2 linked regions of the Homo sapiens genome follow. The protein of the gene in region 1 interacts with the protein of each later gene in a pairwise test. Each region holds a gene or a part of one and is shown in the gene's direction. Other genes may lie near its edges.

Region 1 (4,416 bases):
TATGTGATTGGTCAATACTCTGAAATGAATGAAGTACTCTATTAGACATAGTAATAGAAAAAGTAACGTGTGGTTTTAATCAGTAGAAATAAAAAACAATTTGGCAACATCTTTATGTTTGCATAGAACAAGATGAGCTGCATCATCACTTGCCTTTAATGTACATTTTGTCCTGCTTTCAATCCAAGGATCTGGACATGACAGAGAGTAGAGATGCCTGCTGTTTTTAAAAAGAATGGCAAGAGGCTGTGGCACTTCCTGAGCAAGAAGAAACAGATTCTATAGGAACAGTTCCAAGATTGAATATAGGATTAGTCATTTACCTTTCTATATTCTTAATCAGCTTTAATGACAATGTCACTTGAGTGAAGAAAAGGATTTAAAGTAAAAATGAAGTTCATAATTCATTACATTCTTTCCATTCATGGCAGAACCCTGGGGATCATTGTGATTCTTAAGTAGAAAGGACATTAGATGTGGGGCGTATGAGAGACCTGAGTTTTGGTTTTGCCACTGATTAGTTTATAGCCTTAGGAAAGCTGTTTAGCGTTTTTCATGTGTTTTCTCTACTGTACACTGGTGGGCAAAGATGGGAGAGGTGCTTAATCTTAAGGTTTTCCTTCGCCAAAGCGACTGACACAACACTAAATAGAAACGCATCCTGCACAGCGTCCTTGCTCCGCCCTCCTCGCTTTTCTTTGAAAGTCTTTGAGCACCTCCCGCATACACTTGCTCAGCATCGCATACTGGTGTGCACCGGGGCTGGCCATTGAGTCTTTAGCTGGTGGTGTTTCACAAAGGGAATGAAATCTTGTTCTTGGGTTGTGAAACCGTAAGGACACTCCGGTCTCCAAGTTGACATTCGTTTATGGAAGTGCCCATCTCCTTTCCTCGTCACACCTAAGGCCCTTCCCCAGTCCCCCAAAGATGATTAGCTTCACGTTAGGCGGTTCTGGGGACGGCGCCAATTTGCGGGATGCTGTCAGCGCTGATGCTGAGGAAGAGGATGGATCCTTAAGGCTTGCAGGGCCTCACGATTTGGGCCCTTCATCGCGACTGCCTCAGTGTGTAATTTCGTATCGTGACAAAGCATTTCCGATTTTATTCCGAAAAGCCCAACCATGGGGTCCCAACCATCCCTCTATAACCAATTTAACTGTCACGCTAGGAGAACACCTATGTGCGCAAACTACTTGTCTCGGAAGCCCTACTTCTCTCCTCGGGACAGGCGGGGAGTTGCGGCTATGGCTGGAACTACGAGGCCCAGAATTCCTAGGCGCATGCGCGCTGCCATTGTGATGCTCCTTTCCCGGTAACTCGCCCTCTCAGGCAAACCTGAAGATAGCGGCAATTCTCCGGTGGGGGGCGGAGACGGTTTCTGCCCGACTCTCCGCCCCCTTCGTGATAGGCAATGGGACTAGCCAACCGACGCTGCGAGTTCGGAACGCACTCTCCAATCAGCACCTGTAGCGGAGAGGTGGGCGTGCGCGCTGGCAGGGCAGGTGGGCTAGGCTGTGTCGGGTTACGAGGGGGGAGAATAACGTCGGGTCGGGTCAGCGGGCTCTGCAGTAGTCGCCGCAGCGGCGATGGGAGCGGTGGGGACGAGGCGGCGGCGGCGGCAGGAGGGGGAGCAGGTGCTGGCACAAGAGCAGCGGCTTGGGGGAGCCGGCAGCAGCAGTAACAGCAGCAGCAGCCGCCGCCGCCGCCGCCAGTAAACGCGGACGGTACCCCAGGGGACTACCCAGCCGGCCGGCCCTGGAAGCCGCGCTCGGGTCCCGCCGCAGTCGGCGGTGGGGGATGGGCAGGCAGTGGCGGTCCCGCCTGCCGAGGGTTAACCCCCGCCGGTCCCGGTCCTGAGCTGGACCAGAGCCCTCCTCCAGAAACCCCTGCGTCCGCCACGGCCCAGGTAGGACACACCCCCCGACCCCCCAGGGCGCCGCCCTCCCCCAGTCTCGACCCCCTCCTCCGGCCGCACCCCTCGCCGAGTGACCGAGCCTGCTGAGGAGGGGAGGGGTACCGGGGACTTTCAGTTCGCTGCAAGCCCGGGGCTCGTGCCAGACCCCGTCACTCTCCATCTCGGAGATCGTTCTGGTTCTGCCCGATTTCCCCGAAGGCTGCCGCCTCGTTTTGCCCCAGGCTTTGGGTGTCTTCACTGAACTTGGAGGGTCACGAAGCTTCGTTCTGCGTCTCTCTCTGTGGGTGACCCACATATCACTTGTACCCATGCCACTTCTGGTACCAGCACCGAACACGAAGGATTCCTAGGAAATCTGAGCGCTTATTTCCCACCCCGCCTCCCCAACTATCATGGAAAGGAACATGGGACTACTGAATCTGTTTGCTGTGTTGTAACGACAGTGAAGGCCGCGACTTTCTTGTACTTAGGGTGCTGAAGTAATGATCTGAGGGATTTGCTCGTCATTTGCTGTGGCAGAGATGATGTTGACACCCTGGGATGCTGTGGGAGGGACAAAAGACTCACGTATATGTTCTGTCAAATCGGAGAAGTAAATAATCCATTGGGATGCCAGGATACTTTATTCTACAGCGAAGTTAATTTTGTATCCGTCGAGGCTACAGTAGAGGTAAAAATGACATTGAGTTGTACTTTGCTTTGAATTAAAGTTGATGGGTAGCAGCAATCCTGGTATTAACTCTTCTCTCTCATCGCTTTAGAAATTATTCTTTCTTTGAACATTAAAGAGGACAGTTTTATTATACACTTCTAATAATGTGAAGATGTTTTGTAATTCAGTAGAAATTGAGTTTCTGTGTGTGTAGGAGGGTCATGTTATGAATGGGCACATGTAGACACACACGCAGAGGGAGGATCCACTCAGTGTGTTTTGTTAACAATGTTTGGTTCTGAGCCATTGATAATAGTTGCATTGGTATCTAAACCCTGATTTGCCACAGTATAACACAAAGATGTGTTGGCTGTGTACCTTTGGCTAAATGGAATAGAATAAAGTTCATTTGGGGATAGAAGGGGGAAATGATTTTAACTTATCAAGGGAATTGAATGCTATGTATTGCTTGCTTTATTTCCTTTTTTTTTTTAAATAAAGAAGCAGTAATGATGACAAATATAGCTTAATATGATTAATCTTGAGGCATTTGTCTGAAGTCAAAAAATGTTTCAAATAATGTGTGTGTTATATTGTGATCTATGCAAATTGAAAACATTGAAGGAAATCTTTGATTTAGAAGCTTATGTTTTCCTGTATGATAACATTTTATCAAGACACCGAAGGGGACATATGAAGCATGGTTTTAAAGGAAAGTTTCTCTTAACATTTTTCTTTTATGATAGAATGTTAGGAAATGCTTTCTTCCCTCTTCCAGTTTTAGACACAGAAGAAATTAAAGTCCATAACTTCATTAATTTAATATATAATATCAAGTTGATGCAAATTTGTACATTGGTTAGGGGGCTGAGAATAATATATCTTGCTCATTATCTTGTACTATGGTTAATACATAATTTAGTAAATTCTCTATTGCATTATATATGACTTTAGATTGTTGTATCTTCTTTTGATTTTAAGTGTTGATTATTTTAATACTTCAGGAAATCTTCAAGAGGTTAGACCTCATTTGCTTTAGCAAATTGAACTCAATTATGTGGGGCTTCAAGTATCTTTAAATGTAATACTAGAAGGGAAGTTTGCATAATTTAGACCATTTTCGAGCGTATTTTACTTCTAAAAAGTGCACTAAAAATGTGGCAATGATAAGTTATTGGTTTTTCAAAGTAAATGAATATTACAGATCCGAGTTAGCTGTGATCATGGAATTTAAATTTCACTTTGGTGGGGGGCAGCCACTTTTTTATATGCTTTATAACTTTAAAAAGTAACATATCCAGATGACTGCTTGATTGCAACTCATGAGAGACTCTGAGCCAGAACCACCTACCTAAGACACTTTCAGATTCGAATCCTGAGAAACTGTGTGAGATAATAAATGTTTGCTGCTTTAAAAAAAAAAACCTCATGCCTGTAATCCCAGCACTTTGGGAGGCCAAGGCAGGAGGATCGCTTGAGCCCAGGAGTTTGAGACCAGCCTAAGTAACACAGGGAGATCCTGTCTCTACAAAAAACAAACAAAAATTTAGCCGGGCATGGTGGCTCACACCTGTGGTTCCAGCTACTAGGGAGACTGAGGGGGTGGATCGGAGGTTGAGGCTGCTGTGATCTGTGATCGCTCCACTGCACTCCAGGCTGGGTGACAGAGCAAGACCCCATCTCTTGAAATAAATAAATAAATAAATAAATACAAATCTATGACAAGGGAAAGTGTTTAGGATCATTATTGATCTAGTAAGGACTGTGTTGATCAGTAAAATAAAAAGTCTTTGAGAATTATGGAAAATATAGCTATAGCTTACTTCTTTCCACACTTAAAAAAAAATCC
Region 2 (3,819 bases), on another chromosome or scaffold:
GTTTAGGAGCACAGACTCTGGAACCAGACTCGGGCCTGAAATCCCAAATTCACCACTTACTCTGTGAACTTAATATGTCTTAATATATTTGTGCCTTAGCTTTCTTATGTGTAAAACAGGGATGATAATAGTACGTTCCTCATAGGTTCTTGTTAGCATTGAGTAAGTTACTATGTGAAAACTTTTAAAACCAAGTCTTTGTACATAAGTGTTTACTACTATTTATTGTTTGTTTTCCTTTCCAGTTCGACTAAGAACTTCTTGGGTCAGGTTAATAGAGGTGCCATTTAATTAGAGCTGTGTCCTTTAGGGTCCCAACAGGAAACAGATGCTATACTCAAAACAGGACAATTTTAGAAGAGTTTTTTTTAATAAAGAAGCTGTTTACAAAGGCGCAAGTTCAGAGAAACAACAAAAGACAGTGAAATAACCTGGATCTAGGACATAAGCTATTAACAACCCCTAAGCCTGAAGGGACAAGGTTGAGGAGTGGTTACTAGAACCTTAAAGGAAAGAGAATCGTGTAGAGTCACTGCCTTGAGAGAAACCTTGACCTTTGGTTGGGCTGATCCCAACCAGAAGCTAGAAGGCATAGGAAGCCCTATTGACACAGTTCATATAGGCCAGTCTTCTGAGCCAGAGAGCAGAGTGGAAAAAGGTACAGAGTGAGTTGGGAGGCAAATGAAAGATGTCCAGTACAGAGCTGTCAGAAATAGACAATGGTAATTACAACAGGACTGTGAACCTTGGGGGAGATATTTCAGACAAAATATGATTCTTCCTGTCACCCAGAAAATAACAGAATCTTTTTGGTTTTCCCCTTAAAATTCTTATTAGTTATTATGTACTTGTGTTTGCATAATCCCTGGAAGGGCATCCAAACTATGTAAAAATAGTTAAATGTAAGCGCTGCGATAGATGGGAAATACTGCTCAACATATCTGTTTATATCATTTGATTTTTGATCCATCTAGTATGTTATCTATTTTTCAAGTAAATTTTAAAAATCATTTCTGGAAACCGAGAGCATGGTTACTACCAGCAATACTCCTGGAATCACAGGGCTTTGCAAACTGGTTTTCTGTAGTCAGAAGTTAATTATTTGCATGTGCTCTTTGTACTCTTATAGTATTACAGGTATCCCCAGTGCCTAACTCTGCTGTCTGCTATATTTCAGCCTTTCATCCGCTGTAGTTTACAATGCAGGGATCTGGTTGATGAAGCAAAGAAGTTTCATCTGAGGCCTGAACTTCGGAGTCAGATGCAGGGACCCAGGACAAGGGCTCGCCTAGGTAAGCTGGTATCTCGGCAGAATGAGGGGATGCTTTTCAACTACTTCTTGCAGGTGACAACATAGTTGAAAATAATACTCTATAAGAAGTACAGACACCTCGTTTCAGACCTTTTCTTCTATCATCTCAGACAAGTCACTTTACCACTCTAAGCTTTCTTTCCTATAAATCAAGGATGTCTTCTCTATCTACTTCACATAATTATTTGGAAATTAAATGAGATAAAATATAAAAGCACTTTATACATTGTCAGGCATTACATAATATGTTACAATTTTTTGTCAATATTATTTAGATTCTGTGAATTAGAGATAATTTTAGTGCCACATAATGGCAGGTAAGTAGTATATGCTTCCACCCACCTCTTCACTTCCCCTTATGTGGTTTTTCCATTCCGGAATGAAGAGAGGAAGAAAAGGAGCCCAGTGTGGTAGAAAGTACATGGGTTTTGGCAGTTACTGTTGGTGCAGGTACCAGTTTACCTCGTACTAGATTTATTAACTTGGGCAGGAACCTTAACCTCTGTGTGCTTCAGTTGCCTCATCTGTAAATGGAATCATCGTAGCACCTGCCTGTAACATTGTTATGAAGAGTAAATAAAGTTATTTATGTAAAGCCTTAAAACACTTCTTGGCACATAATAACTATGTGTATTAGCTATTATCTTAGCAAATAGACCTAGGTTCAAATCCAAGCCCCAGCAATGACTGGTTGGGCAAGGTATCAATTTATCTGAGCCTGTATGTCTACCACTAAGATGAGAGTTAGTGTCTTATCTCAGTGTTGGGAGGATTGAATGAGATAATGTATATAAGATACCTAACACTATAGCTGGCACACACTAAATACTCAGATATCACCATACTTTCCACTTCCTATTCTCTTTGCTTCACTGTCCAAAAGCCTAGGTGTATAGTGTATAAAAACATTTTATAAGTTATGAATTACTCTATATGTATGGGGTGGTATTTTGTTTTATTGTTTCCTTTTATCTGACTGAGGACTCATGATGCGTGCTAAGGTGTTAGTTGATAATTAAGCTGCTCACTGATGGGTTTAGGTAGAATGGTGATTTATCCGCTATATTTTATTTTTTTTAATAGAAATGAGGTCTCACTATGTTGCCCAGGGTGGAGTGCAGTGGCGTGATCTCGGTTCACTGCAGCCTTAGCCTCCTGGACTCAAGCAGTCTTCCCACCTCAGCCTCCCAAGTAGCTGGGACCGCAGGCACGTGCCACCATGCCTGGCTAATTTTTATATTTTTTTGTAGAGACAGAGCCTTCCTTTGTTGCCCAGGCTGGGTCTTGAACTCCTGGACTCAAGCAGTTCACCTGCCTTGGCCTCCCAAAGTGCTGGGATTACAGGCCTCCCATATATATATATATAATTTTTTTCCTTTTTTTTTTTTTTTTAAGACAGAGTCTTGCTCTGTCACCCAGACTGGAGTGCAGTGGTGCAATCTTGGCTCACTACAACCTCTCCCAGGTTCAAGCAATTCTTGTGCCTCAGACTCCCGAGTAGCTGGGACAACAGGCGACTGCCACCATCCCTGGCTAATTTTTGTATTTTTGGTAGAGACAGGGTTTCTCCATGTTGACCAGGCTGGTCTCTAACTCCTGGCTGCAATTGATCCACCCACCTTGGCCTCCCAAAGTGCTGGGATTACAGGCATGAGCCACCATGCCTGGCTCCCTCTCCTATATTTTTTAATGGCATAAGTACTGCATGTTCAATGTAGAACTTGTAGAAATACAGAGAAGCAAAAAATAAATAAAAATCATCCATAATCTTACCACTCAAAGATACTGCATTTTTTTAAAAAGAGAACTTTTAGATAGGGCATTGTAGATGGTATTTTCTACTACTGCAAGATGACAAAATGTGATCTGTGTTTCATATGCTTTATACACAGATACATATCAACACAAGATAGATTGAAGGACTGAATGGTGAAAAACTATGAGAATATTAGAAGAAATTATAGGAAAATATTTGTATACCTTCTGGATGGAAGTCTTTTTTTTCTTTTTTGTAAAATATATGTAACAGGCCGGGCACGGTGTCTCACACCTGTAATCCCAGCACTTTGGGAGGCCAAGGTGGGCAGATCACTTGAGGTCAGTAGTTCGAGACCAGCCTGGCCAACATGGTGAAACCCCATGTCTACTAAAAATACAAAAATTAGCTGAGTGTGGTGGTGCACACCTGTAATCCCAGCTACTCTGGAGGCTGAGGCAGGAGAATCGCTTGAACCCGGGAGGCGGAGGTTGCAGTGAGCCAAGATTGCACCATTGTACTCCAGCCTGGGCGACAGAGTGAGACTCCATCTCAAAAATAAATAAATTAATTAAATAAAATATATTTAGCATAAAATTTACCATCTTAACCATTTTTACATGTACAGTTGACTCATGTTAAATACATTGTTATACAATCAATCTCTGTAACTCTTTTTGTCTTAACAAGACTGAAACTCTGTACCCATTAAACAATAAACTCCCAATTTTGCCTTTCCTCCCAGGGTAGG

What was found.
Region 2: the proteins of TTBK2 (region 1) and KLHL12 interact in binary tests that used the Homo sapiens proteins (3 or more experiments, as listed by UniProt).

The regions. Positions count from the first base shown.
Region 1 is NC_000015.10:42,917,928-42,922,343, reverse strand, and holds the start of TTBK2 (tau-tubulin kinase 2), read left to right. Parts: upstream 1-1,565; 5' UTR 1,566-1,906; exon of another isoform or gene 1,907-2,486; coding exon of another isoform or gene 2,487-2,585; intron 2,586-4,416.
Region 2 is NC_000001.11:202,906,483-202,910,301, reverse strand, and holds part of KLHL12 (kelch-like protein 12), read left to right. Parts: intron 1-1,177; coding exon 1,178-1,292; intron 1,293-3,819. UniProt on the Homo sapiens protein: Substrate-specific adapter of a BCR (BTB-CUL3-RBX1) E3 ubiquitin ligase complex that acts as a negative regulator of Wnt signaling pathway and ER-Golgi transport.